2 separate regions of the Homo sapiens genome follow, and region 2 is linked to region 1. A link means that fine-mapping ties the variant in region 1 to the expression of a gene that starts in the linked region. Tissue or cell type: whole blood. Region 1 holds a variant in brackets; the other region holds the start of a gene. All regions are shown on one strand. Distances are from middle to middle.

Region 1 (8,078 bases):
GGAGCCCAGGTCCAGACGTGGGCACTAGAGGAGCCCTCACCTCGGCTGGAGGGATGCCCTCCGGTGGACGGCAGGGCAGCACGATGCCCTGCTCCAGGGACACCTCCTTGGCCAGCGGCTCCTGCTCGAAGTTCTTGCGCAAATCTAGAAGAGGAATGAGAGTGTCCTCCTGTCTGAGGGCCTCGCACAGGCTCAGCCTGGCTGGCTGTGTCCCTTGTCCTGCAGGGGCCGTGGCACATGGCAGAGGAAGTGCCAGGTGGCCAGGGGGCCATGGGGTGGCTGGGCCGTGTCCACAGGCACTTTATCCACTCATCCAGGCAGGGCTGTGAGGTTTTCTGACCGGACCGCCTCTTCCAGGAAGCCTACTGTCCCCTCTCCTGGTGACACCCTCCCGCCGTGCGCCCTCCCCCAGGGCCCAGCCCTAGACTCACAGGCTATGCGGATGTAGGCCTTCTGACTCTTGGTGGTGCCCGAGGAGCTCCATGCCACGCACTGGCACCAGTATTCCTCCAGCCCGAACACCTTCTCGACCTGCTGCCTTGAGACATTAATGCGGACCTCCATGGTGGGCAGCCCTGGGGGCGGGAGGGGCAGGTAGTCAGAGCCCCAGGGCCACCCTGAGCTTCTGTGTGTGGGTTCCTGCGCCACCCTCAGCCACTCTCGCTGACTGGCAAGGGAGTGGACTTTGTTTTTTTTTTTTTAAATTTTATTATTATTATATTTTAAGTTTTAAGGCAACCTCCAGCCTGGAGGAAACTCCAGGGGGCCCAAGGGCCGCTTGATTTCTATCTCCTGAAGGCCCCGGGCAGGCAGGGTAGACCTTCCATTCATTATACTTTGTTACCTGAGGCCTGACTCCCCGGAGTCACTTACAGAAATGTCCATAAAGGGGCTGCCGTAGAGCTTTGGGCCAGAGGGTCTGACCTCCAAAGACTCCAGGCAGAAGGGGTGGGGCAGACAGGCTGAGCTCTGCACCTCTGTGGGTAAAAGAGGTGAGGAAGGATCTGGCCCCCTCCCTCGGGGGCTAGCAGATAGATCCTGACGTGATAATATAATAACAGTCATTAACAATATAATTGCAGTGATTATGTAGTATGATGCTAGCGCCCTGGGACTTAGGGTTTCCCACGTGCCGGGATGGGGATGTCGTCTTAATCCACTCCCTTGGACAGAAATGCAGAGGGAAGTGACTTGCCATGGGGACCCGGGACTGTCTGCATCCGAAGGGTGAGCTGGGGCGCCTATGCACTAGGGAGAAACTTTGGAAGAGGGTGAGAGAGCAGCCAGCAGAGGGGGAGCTGGGGGTCTAGGACCCGCTCTGCCTAACTAGGGTGAGCTGGGGGGACTCCGCTCCAGGCTGGACTCAGCCCCCCACCTTCTGCCATATCTGGCCTGAGGCAGGCTGAGGACCCTCTGACAACTCAGGAGCGGGGGCAGCAACCCTCCTCCTGCCCCGTCTGTAGCCAAAACCAGCATCCCCAGCAGTGAGAAAAGACTGTTTGCTTCCAATTTCTCCTCCTCCTGACCCCAATTTCCCTCGGGTCATTGGCTTATCAGAAAGGGAGAGAGAGGCCGGCAGCCAATGTGTTTCCATTGTTAACAGCGAAATTCAATTAGGGCTGCATTGCGGGAAGAGCGGCCGCCCAGCTGAGCCGGCAGGCTGGGAGGCTGTTTCCCTCTTAATTTCTCTAACATGACTTTCTCCGACTGCTTCCCAGACCCCTCCTCACAAGCCTCTGGGCTCTCACACTGGGTGTCCAGATTTTTCTATCACTTTGTCCCTGTCGCCGGCCAGCTATCATAGGAGATGGCAGAGCTGTCACCTCTGGTGAGATCATGGTAGCTGGGCCGCTTCCCTCCGTTCTGGGCACCACCTGCCCCGTTCTCTAAGACACCCAGTGTGGACACTCTCAGGGGGTGGGGTGGGCAGGCTGAGAACGAGGGGGTGGCTCACAGGGTCCTTGTATAGGAGAGGGGCCTTGGGCACCAGCTATCTTTCAATGTGACTTAGGGCATCTGATAAGGAGATCTGGGGAGGGGCCCTCCACTCCCTTCATCCTCTCTGCCTTGGGGGTTAGGGGTGGGAGACCTCCAGAACATTCTGAACTGGGTACTTTTTCTCCCTTGGGTGGACAAGTCTGTTAATGGTTCCTCCATCCCCCGTGGTGCTGTGGGGAGCCCGGCCCTCCTTCAGGAGCCTCACCCATGGCCCAGGCGGCTCAGCTTGGGAGAACAGCACTACCTTTAAGCGCTCCCTTTTCTTCTCCCTTTGCCTTCCCTCCCCTTCTGTCCTGCCACCTCCTCTCCTCCCTCTCACTTGCATGAGTGAGGGCCAAGTGTGTCCTCAATGTGCCAGCTCCACGCAGTGCCTTGGTGAGGGGTGCCCTTCAGCCCCACAAGCTCCTGGAGGGCAGTGCCTGAGGCGGGGGCTGCAGACCCGGCCCTACCCCATCTTTGATGTGAGGGGCTGTGCGCTCTCCTCTTGTGGATCATCAGGCAGCCTGGTTCCTGGGAGCAGTGTCTGGGTACAGCTATGTCTGTACCTGCCCATAAGTGTGAGCAGGTGCCAGCCCTGGGGAGGGACCCCGGGCCAGTGGGCCTGGGCGGGTGTGTGTGTGAACCTGGGCTGCCCAGGGTTTCTAGCTGGGGCTCTGAGGCCAAGCTGGCACTTCGGTTCTCACCTTCTCAGCAATCTGCTTCTAAACAATCTAATAACCAATCAGTTTGTTTAACACAAAATAAGTTATACTCCCAGACCGGACTCCAGTGCTTGGTTTTGCAAATTTCAGGCTTTTTTTTAGTGTTAGCAGGTTTGGGTTCCAGCACTTCAGGCCTTGGTCCCTGCCCCCTGGCCTTCTGGGTGAGGAATGAGGGCAAACGAGAGGGAAGTAGGTGCTCTCCTGGGTGTCCATCCGGCCACCTCCAGCCCCACACATGAATGAGTGGGCTGCAGAGCTGGGTGGGCCTCCGAGCCCTGCCATACCTGTCTGACCACAGAACGTTTCTGGTTTGGGGTCTTTGGTCTTTGGCGGCGTGGCGCCACTGCCGTGGTATCTGCCGTGGGTAAGGAAAGCCTTTTTCTTCACCTCAAAGCACTCGATGGCTTTGGGTTGAGAAATCGATGAGATCAATGAACGTTCAGATGTTCCGGCCATGGGAGGCTGGAGTCGGATGCTCGGGGCAGAAGAGGACCCTGGCGGTTACGGGTGGGACGTGTCCCAAGCTCTGCTTCTCTGCCCGGCAGGAAGAGAACAGGGCCACAGGAGCCGGCTGGGGAGTGTGGGCCAGGGGCTCCCGGTGTGTGTGCCGGCCCGGGCCTGCGACTGCTCATTCAGGCAAGGGTCTGGGTTCCTGCCAGTCCATGGATCTGAGCCCTCATAATGGCAGGGGTGTTTCAGACAGAGGGGTGTGCGGGGGAGCCCGGAAGGGGGTGCTGGGAGCAGCAGGGGGCTGGACTGGAGCTTCCAGGCTGCAGGAGAGCAGCTCTCTGGCTGTGCTTTCCCTGGGGGACCTGCCACAGCAGTGGGAGAACTTATGCTGAAGGGACGCTGGGCCCCGGGTGTGGGGTGGGGAGAAAGGAAAGGCCCCGTGCTGGGTCCTGACTGGGCACGTGAGATTTCATGGCTTCCCCCGACCAATCTGCAAGGGGCAGGATGGAGGGGAGGTCTCCTCACCCCCATTTTACAGATGAAGAAACTGAGCCCAGGGAGGGGAGGGACTTGCCTGCGGTTCTCCTGCAGACCCTCCCAGCAAGACAAGGTGGGCCCTGCTGCTGGGCAGGGAGGCCTCTGGCACCTCCGCTGGGGCCGGGAGAGGCTCTGGTCCTGGGAGGTGTTGGTGCCCAGGGTTCTGTTGGGCTACATTGGCCGCCAACCCTCTCTATCTCCCTCTGAGGGTAGGAGGTAGAGCTGGATCACTGCCCTGAGAGCATAACTCCTAGTACCTAACCCAAGGCATGGCACAGAGCAGGTGCTCAGCGAACACCTGAAGACCGCAGGTGAGAAGCTGCAGTCAGGCCAAGGCACTGAGACGACACTTGGGGGAGGGAGGCAGTCCCTGCTGACCCTCACGGAGGGGTGGTGTGTGACTGCTGCAGACGAGAAGGGCTGGTTGGAGCCCCGGCAGGGCTCTGGATGAGTAAGAGCCAAGGCCTCAGTCTCAACCGTAAAATGACAAGCTGGTTCTGGGGCTAAATGGCACTGCCTAAATCCAGGGCTCTTCAGCTCACCTCAGATCACTGCCAGAGCTTCCAAAC[C/T]GTTCTCCCTGGCAGGGGCCTTGCCCTCCTCCAGTCTCCCTGTGCCCAGCACGGTCTTCCTACAGTGCAAGTGCGACCGCAGCCCGCTCTGGTGTCTCAGCCTCCAGGGGCCCCTTAGCGCAGTCTCCTGGCCACTGCTGCCTGCCCCGGGGTTCGCTCTCGCTCCATACCCGAGCCACCCAAGGCTGTTCTGCGCCTCTGCACCTTCCATTCTACAGGCCTGGGAGATGCCCTTTCCAGGTGGTTTTGAGACCTGAGCTTGGATGTTCCTCCTCCGCTGGGAATCCTTCCTGGGCCACCTCTCTAGGCCCAAGGTCCCCGGCCTGCCCTTGGCATCAGTGGGAGTCCTGGGTGACACCTGCTTGTCCCAGCTGCACTGTGGCTTGAGCCTCACGGCAATGGCCTGTGTGTCCCGCACGGGCTGTGCCTCGACAGGGTATGTGTGCTGTGTCTCAGGATGGCTGAGGCCTTGGTGGGAGGGGGCTCAGGACTACCCCTGAGGTGTCATTATGCGTGGGGTGCTCCACAAAGCACCAAGGGAGAGGAAACTGAAACAGGCTCTAATGAGTGAGGAGGAGGAGGAAAGGTAGGAGAGGAGTGGGGGAGGGGAGGAGGAGGGGGAGGAGGAGGAGGGGGAGGAGGGGAAGGAGGGAAGAAGGGGGTAAAGAAGGAGGAGGGGAGGGGGAGGAGGGGAGGGAGGAGGAGAGGGAGGGGGAAAAGGGGGAGGAGGGGGAGGAGGAGAAGCTGTTGTTTGCTCCTGCCTCTCTCTCTGCCAGTCCTTTCTGGGGGAGTTGCGGAACCCAGACAAGGGCTGTCTGCCCACGTCCCCAGTGCCACTTAAGGCCAGGGCTGGGGGTGGGGAATGTGGTGTCTCATGGAAGAGGTGCTTCCTGGGTCTGCTCGCTGCCCCTAGAACCTCTCTCTCTGTGCCCCCAGCTGAGTCTGGCTGGCCCCCTCTGCTCAGTGTCTCCAGACCTGCTGCTTCCATCAGCCCCAACTCTGGCCCCTGAATCACATATAGCTCTGGCCATGTCGCTCTGCAGCTTGAGATCCCCTAAGACAGTGGCATCAGTTTGGTCCCCTGCACACCCTCACCCTCACTGCTGACCCCACCACCGGCATGCCGGCGTCTGCCTCCAGGCTTTCCTGGGCTGTGTCCCCTGCCTGGGATGCACTTCCCCCTTCTGCACTCCCTAACCGGTTCTTATGCCTCTCTCAGTTAACACATCACCTCCCCTGAGGGGCCTCTCTCCCTGCTGAGAGGTCACCCCGCTGTCTGCCTCTCTGTGGGAACTTGGGCTCCGAGGGTGGCGGGCTGTCCCCAGCACGGGAGTGGGTGCTCACAGGTGTGAGTGAATGCCTGACTGATCGAATGAACCGACGCACAAAGAAAACAATCACTGAATGTGAGGTCTGGGAGCTCCTTGGTCATCAGGGACCCCCTCTCTCCCCCTCCTTCTCCCCAAACTGCTGAGGGTTGTGGCCTCTGGGGAAGGCCTCCGGGGTCCCAGGTGGGGAATCCTGGGGGCAGCTGCAGGCTCCTCTGGGGGGGCCGAAACTCGCCTCCCCCGGATTGGCCCTGCCTGGCGCCCCATGCGGCTCACCACTGCTCCCGTCTGTGCTGCGCTCGATCACGTGGTCCACCTGGCGCACCCACTCCCCGTTGCACTTGAAGAAGATCTGCGTGGCGGGCACGGCCTTGCACACAAGCAGCACTGGCTTGTTCTTGACGATGTACACATCCTCGGGCTCCACCAGGAAGTGGGGAAGCAGGTCCGGGTTGGCACCAGGCACTGGGTTGGCCACGGTGGCACTCTGCTGGGCACCTGCGGCAGGGCAGAGGGGGAAGGTGAGCCAGGGGCCAGACTGGGCAGGGTAGAGGCAGCGGCTCAGCAAACGATTCCACCGTGGGTTGGGGCAGATGGGAGGAGAGTGAGTCCAGGCTCTGCCATGTCCCAGCTGGGCAATCTCAGGCCAATGACCATCCCCCACCCGGGCCTCCATGTCCTCCTCTGTACAAGCAGGGAAGGAGCAGCCCATGCCATCCTGAAGACCGTGGTGAGGTGAAATGAGACCTGGGCGGAGTCCCAGCACCGAGGTGGCCTGGCGACTGCCTTCCTAGAAGTCCAGGGATCTGGCCAGGCAGGCCCCTGCCCGGGAGGTCCAGGGCAAGGCTGGCCAAGGTGAGAAGGTCCCTGGCCAGGCAGGTGAGCTGCCTGGGGCGAGGGAGGGAGCAGCCCTGGCCAGTGGCCGCCTCTGGGGCCCTGCTTCCTGGTTGGCCCCATCCCTGGCCCTGCACATAGTAGGTGCTCAGAAATAACATGCGGGGTGGGCACGGGCAAGGCGAGAGCCGGGAGTCTGTCTGGGAATCTGAGATACCTGGGCCACCTCCTTCAAGGAGACCTGAATATGTGGGTTTCCTTCTAATTTTAACTGAAAACCACAACCATCCCACAAGTCATTTGTTGCTAATTACACAGGTAATTGGCTTGGAGGCACTGGCAGAGGTAAAACCCCCAGAGTAGTCTGATCCCTGCCCAACCAGCAGGTCCCCTGAGAGGATGGGGTGGGGGTCACCCTCAGCTCCCACAACCCCCAGCTGCCCTTTGAACAGGTCCTCAGCCTCCCTGGGGCTGCAGTGATCCCCCCACCAATGCGCATTCACAATTGCAGCCCCTGGGCATAGAGGGAAACCCTGGGTTTCCAGACCATCTATTCTGCTCATCTTAGTGGTGACCTTGGGGAGCGAGTGGCTTGCTATCTGTGAGATGGAGATGACAGCTGCCTGTGGGGATGTCCACAGGCCCCTCACATGGATGGCCTCTGGGCTCCTCCACCCTCCCCACGGGTGATCCAAAACCCACCCAGGGCTTCAGACTGGGAGGCCTGGGCCCACCCTACCCACCGAGGGGCACATACGCCTGGCCCACTGCCCCTTTCGCTCCTGCTTGCGCAGGGACCCTCTCCCCAGGGTGGGAGTCCGCCCTTCACCAGGACCCTGGTTTCACGGCAGGAGGTGTGTGCACCAGCTCCTGCAGGCGCCCTGGAGGGCAGGCTCGGACCGAGGGTTCAGGGGCCTCTGCAACTTCAGGCAGGTCCATCCACCCCATCCTGAACCTGTTTCCTCACCTGCAAAATGGGGCGTGGTGCCCAGTTCTTAAGGCTGTTGTGAGGATGAAATGAAACAGGCGTGAGGCACTCAGCACAGTGCTCAGGGAGCGTAGGCTGCTGTTGGTACCCCCACGGTTCTGCGTGTTCCACAGCAAAGGGCTGCACCCCCTCAGCTCGGTCATCCTCACAGCAATCTCATAGGGGGTGAGAGCCAACAAGGAAACTGAGGCACAGAGCTGGCAGGTGCCTTAGGGATGGCAGAGGGAGGCTGGCTGAGCTGAGGGGTGCAACAGCTGTGTCTTTGTGAGCTCAGGGGCAGATGGGTGTGGAGGGCATTTGGGACATAGCCGGACAGTTTGTCCGCTGCTGGGTCGCCGGCCCTCCCTGGGCGCCTGCCCCTCCTCTCACTCTCTGGCCTCCCTGCCTGCCTCCTGCCCACCTGCCAGACTCCGGCCTCTCCCCAGCTTGGCTTTTTCCCTTGTGTGCCCTCCCACTGGCAACTGCCCCCCGCATGTTCCGCAGCTCTGTTATGGACACCAAGCCCGCATTCATAAGCGGGGTCACACTTGCAGTTCACATGTCGTGAAAATGAAGGTCATCAGACCCAGACCCACCCCACCCTGAACCACCTCTGCTGGGGTCTGTCGTAGGCTCAGGAAGTGGCGGAATGCAGGCGACGCTGGGGGGTGGGACCAAGACACCTTATTGACGG
Region 2 (5,000 bases), 220 kb after region 1:
CTCCAGCCTGGGCAACAAGAGCAAAACTCTGTCTCAAAAAAAAAAAAGAAAAAAGAAAAAAGGAAACCACAAGCAGTTTCCAAACAGAACAACACCAGGGTCTGCCTGACATTAAACATGAAAACCTCTGTGCCTGTTCCACAAGCAGCCTCCCTTAGGCCACCTTAACCCAAATCTGAAATCCTCCCTCCAGCCCCCAAGTGACCCAGCCCAGTCAATTCAGCCTCTTGACTTTCCCAGCAACCTCCCTCACCTTTCCCACCTCACCATCCCAGCTTTGCCCCAGCCCTGCCCCCATTCCAAACCTCCAGGCCCTGCCCCTCATCCACCCTCCACACAGCAGCCAGGCAAGCGGTCTCCAGAACAGAAGCCAGATCAGACCCATCACTGGAAGCCCTCGCTTCTCCATGCCACCTTAACATAACACCCCACGCTCCGCCCCAGCAACAAACCCGGGTCTCTCACGCCTGCTCCCCCTCGGTATTTGAGGTTACTTCTGCTCACAGCTCTGCCTCACCTCCACCCTCTGCCCACTAAGCCGTCACCTTGGCTCTGTACTTTCTGGCTGTGTGACCCTAGGTAAGTGACTTAATTTCTCTGTGTCTATTCCTTCAGTTTCCCCATCTGTAAAATGCAGATAATAAGGCAGTTGTGAGAATACAACAAATTGAACTCATTGTATCTGCCTAACAGCCCTCACAGGCAGATTCTTTATCGTCGTCTCCCAGGCAGGCAAGCTGAGGCCCGGAGAGGAGAGATGACTTGCCCAAGGTGTCCCAGCCAGGCCTGCTACAGCCAGGCCTTCTGACTTCTTTGCCAGTGCTCCCACACACTGCCCACACCCTCAAGAGCCTAGCGCTGCAGTGCAAGGACACCCACCACACCAGTGAGCTCGGTGACACGTGGGTGGGGGGCAGTGCCACTGAGTCTTGCTGAACACAAGGGAAAAGGCCTGGCATCTTGACCCAAGGCCTCAGGAGCAGAGACTGCAGAGGGCCACGGCTTTGGAGAGATGGGAAAAATGACCTGGCAGGGCCCAGGGGGACAGATGCCACCCTGGGAGGGGCACTAGTAGCTCCCTTCCCCGGTAGGGGCAGACCCGCCCAGGAGCCTCAGCTTGTCAGCTGTGGAATGTTGAATTCTGTTCCCCAAGGCCAGCTCCCAGGCTCTCAACCGGGGAGATCCTCTCCCAGCCGCCAAGGACTCGCCATTGTCCCTCCCTGCCCCTCCTGGCAGGTCAGCCTCCTTGTGCGGGACTGGGGTGGGCAGAGGACTGTGACCCACCCCACTCTGCAGGAGCCTAAGGTGAGGCACCTGACCCAGGTACTACTGGAAGGGAAAGGAGGCCGGGGAAGGGGCCTGGCGGCTCCCTTCACGCCAGAATCTCCTTACCGGCTAAACCAGGGGTGGGGCTTGGCACGCATCCCACATCCCAGGGTAGGAAGGAGGGCTGGGCGAGAGGGGGCAACCTGCACCTAGCACGCCCCTGGGGTCTTCAAGGAAACACCTTCCCTTTCTCCACCAGGCCTCGGGATTATTTAGGGAGACTCCCTACCCCAACCCCGACCCCACGCTGTCGCTAGGACCCGCCCCCAGCAATCCGGGCCTCTGTAGCTACCTCGGGTGGTCCTGGAAGTGGGCGTGGGTGTGGCAGAAGTGGGGGGATGGTCCCGAGCTCCAAACTCTTGGGGCAGGGAGTGGTCTCCCCCAGCAAAAGACTGAATCTCCCTCTCCCACCACCCCCCAGCACAGGGCAAGGCGCAGACCCCGCGCTCACCCAGAAGACAATGTTGAAGCCAAACAGGAAGTATTTCCCGCAGCAGCCGACCTCAGGTTCCTGGAAATGCTGGTGCTTGCCGGGCATGGTGAGCGGCCACCCGCCGGCCCGGAAACCGGAGCCGGGAGCCAGGCCCAGCGCCCCGCGGGCCGCCCTGGGCTAGAGCCGCCCGGGGCCTAGCCGGGCGGCTGCGGCTTCATGGCCTCGGCCACACAGAGCGCCGGTCGGGCCCCGCCCGCCCCTCAGGGACCGCCCTCAGCATCCAGACCTCCTTGCCCGGAGCCCTGCTGTCCCCGCCTCTGGACCGGGCCCCGCCCCCACAGCCCTCAGTCCCTTTGGAGTCCCGCCTCCTGACCTGGCTCCGCCCCCATAGATCAACTCAGTCCCGCCTGAGCCCCGCCTCTGGACCTGGCTCCGCTTCCCGAGCTCCGCCCCCACAGCCTGATTCGGACCTCCTCGCAGCCCCGCCTTCGGCCAGGCCCCGCCCCCGCGCAGGCCGCCGCCGCGTTTCCCAGCGTCCTGCAGACCCGCCCGGGACGCCGGCTGATGGCGCCGGAGGCCGCCGGGGTGTAGAAGCCTTGCTTCCCCTGCTGGGTACCAGCGCCATCCCAATCCCCAGCCTGCTGTTGGAGCCCATCCCAGGGGAAGGTTAACTGCTGCTCTGGCAGGCGAATGGGGAAGCTGGTCCGGATTGAGTTTTTAACACGTGCAGGACGTTTTGTCATTGTGGAGTCGCATCAGGCTCACCTTCACCCAGCGGAAATCCAGCTCTACTTATCCTGACTCAAACTCAGGCCAAACGAGGGCCTGGGCCTTGGTGCCACGCCGGCTGCGCCCTGCCAGGGGCATATGCCCCCCGGAACCTGGCTCAAGCCCCCTTGGTGGCTGAGTTTCCCCAGCCACACCCCCTGTCCTCCATACTGGCCAGGGTCCCGGTCAGGCTCCTTGGTACCCAGTGATCTCACATGAGCCCCTGTAAGACAGGACAGAGGCAGATCAAAGTTTGGGGGAACCTGAATCTTACTCCAGTTTGAAGCCCTCTTAAAAATAATTCCAACTTTGTTCAGAAGTATTTATTTAAAACAGGAACAGAAAGATGCTTAAGCTTTTATTATCAAGTTTATCCACTTCCACCACTTCTACCAGAACCTTGGTGAGGCCTAGCCCAGCATCCCTCCACCTCCACTTCAGTCTGGCCCTGAGGCAGGCAAGGCCCAGACAGCCCTGGTCACAGCTGGGGAGAAGGGGAGCGGCCTTGCAAGGCTCTCTCAGTCCTCAGCAACCCACGTATCCCTCTGTACAAATGATGGCGTTCACCCTCCAGAATGTCTGTGCCCTTGAGCCCACCACCCATGGAAGAGTCTGTCTCTCAGGCCACCTCACCTCCTTCCTGGGTGGAAACAGTAAACGCTGGACTATGGGTTTCTCCGCCTACCATAGAGCCCTCCTTCCCCGCCATGACTCACCCCACCCTCAGGAGTTTTTTCCACCCTGCTGCTGTCCTGTGGCCCCAGGACAAGCTAGGTCCTCAGACTGCCACCACTACCCCCATCTAGCCCCTAAGGCTCAGGCCCCAACTCATGTTAAAGAGTGTTTGCATTCCTGTTCACTTGAGGACAGGTAAGAACTAGGCTGTCTGATCCCCAGTCCCGCCCCATCCCCCAAAGTAATGAGGCTCAGTGGCGGCTGTCCCATTACATAGGAGGGGTGCCAAGGCCCCCCTCACACCACAAACTTGTTCTTGGCTAGGGAGTTGCTCTTGGTGGCTGTGTCTGCATGGGCCTGGTACCCAATGATGGTCTTTGGGGAGAGGCCCAGGCGCTCTTTGTATACACGCCTGCAGGTGCGGGGGACACAGAGGAAAAGAGACACAGGTAGTCATCAGAGGGTCCTAGAGATAACTTAGGCCACCAGACTCCTACCCTCATTCTGGCCACAGCCACACCTGTTGTGTCTTACCCATGTGGAAACCCAAAATATGACCCCCTTAATGCAAAAGGAGAGCTGCACTGCCGTAAGAGAAAGTTAGAAATCTGAACGCCAGACCTTCCATACAGGTGGGCAAGGCAGAAGGGAGGGAGGCTATGGAGACTTTCAGAGGTCTCCCATGCAGGCCAAGCCCCCTCCACCCACCTTCCCTCTAGCAGAGACCCAAGTCCCCACCCTGTGCCAGAGACCCTCCTCACCCAACGTGCAGCACGCCCGCCTGGTTTTCCGCCTCCCTCGTCCACACAGCGATCTTGTCCCCCTTGGTGCGGATGTTGACGACGGCCCCACATACCTCTCTGCTGTGTTCCTCAAAGCTCTCCCCGATCAGACACAGCAGCTGGACCCGAAGTAGGGGGTTGTGAGATCACCGGCTGGGACATAGGGACTGGCCTGCCATCCTTGAGACCACTGCCACCATGAGACCCACACAGCCCGTCTCTTCCCCTGAGGACCCTCCTCCTCCAACTCACCGTCTCCAGCCACAGCCGGTCCAGCTCAATGTGGCGCTGCTGCTTGGCCAGGCTGACCAGCCAGCGGCCACCCCGTTTATTCCTGCTGTCCTCCCACATGGGCTGGATGCCATCCTGCAAGGCAGATGGCAAGTCAACTGCCTCCCTGTGTTCAAAGGGAAATGGGGACCCACCCACCATCCCGGCCTTATCCGCTCTCTGCTGAGGCCCTAAGTAGGCCAGATTCTCTTATCCTCCCTTCCCTCAGTGCAAGCAGGTTCCACCCCCAGCCACTCAGCTCCCCCCGACAGACAGCACTGGTCACCTTGTATAGCCTTGTATATGTGCATGTCTCTTTTACTGAGTTCCTTAAGACAAGCATTCAAATCGGGGTGGATTAAGGAAGCCTCAGGGGCAGACCCCAATGCAGGCAAGGGGGACATCCCAGGCTTGGCTGCATGGTTCCCAGGCAGGGCAGAAGTCACTGGGGAGATCTCTAAACACAATGTCAGCCCTCCAGGGATGGGTGTGGCATCAATGAGTGTCCTCAAGCAATTCTGATGCCCTTCCCTAGTTAAGGAGCCAGGTCAGAAATCTCTCCCTCTCCCTCTTCCCGCCTCTTAAGGTCCTCCAAGGTGCGGCTTGGGCCTGACCTACTCTGTCCGGGCTCCTGTAGAGCATTTCCTCCAGTCAGAAACCACAACTCTGCTGAGAGGTGGCCCGTAGCTCCCCACCCCCACCCCTCTGAGGGATTAACGCAGTGGAGTCCGGGAGGGATCAACCCC

Evidence for each region. PIP is the estimated chance that this variant, and not a neighbour inherited with it, causes the effect.
Region 2: TSPAN17 starts here. The variant in region 1 is fine-mapped to the expression of TSPAN17 in whole blood (INTERVAL, PIP above 0.99).

The regions. Positions count from the first base shown.
Region 1 is chr5:176,860,627-176,868,704 of GRCh38, reverse strand. It overlaps UNC5A (unc-5 netrin receptor A), which reads right to left. Exons shown (of 15, transcript NM_133369.3): 2 at 5,860-6,081; 3 at 432-575; 4 at 41-144. Among named protein-coding and RNA genes, the nearest start is that of HK3, 35 kb to the left of the region's middle. RefSeq lists an enhancer at 1-42. The variant C/T (reference allele first, on the strand shown) is at 4,256.
Region 2 is chr5:176,644,480-176,649,479 of GRCh38, reverse strand. TSPAN17 (tetraspanin 17) reads right to left here and starts at 1,996. Exons shown (of 9, transcript NM_130465.5): 1 at 1,778-1,996. The coding sequence starts at 1,864. It overlaps EIF4E1B (eukaryotic translation initiation factor 4E family member 1B), which reads right to left. Exons shown (of 9, transcript NM_001099408.2): 7 at 4,237-4,350; 8 at 3,964-4,103; 9 at 2,836-3,614. The coding sequence ends at 3,500. RefSeq lists enhancers at 1-736, 3,098-3,392, 3,663-4,173, 4,755-5,000 and a silencer at 1,765-2,424.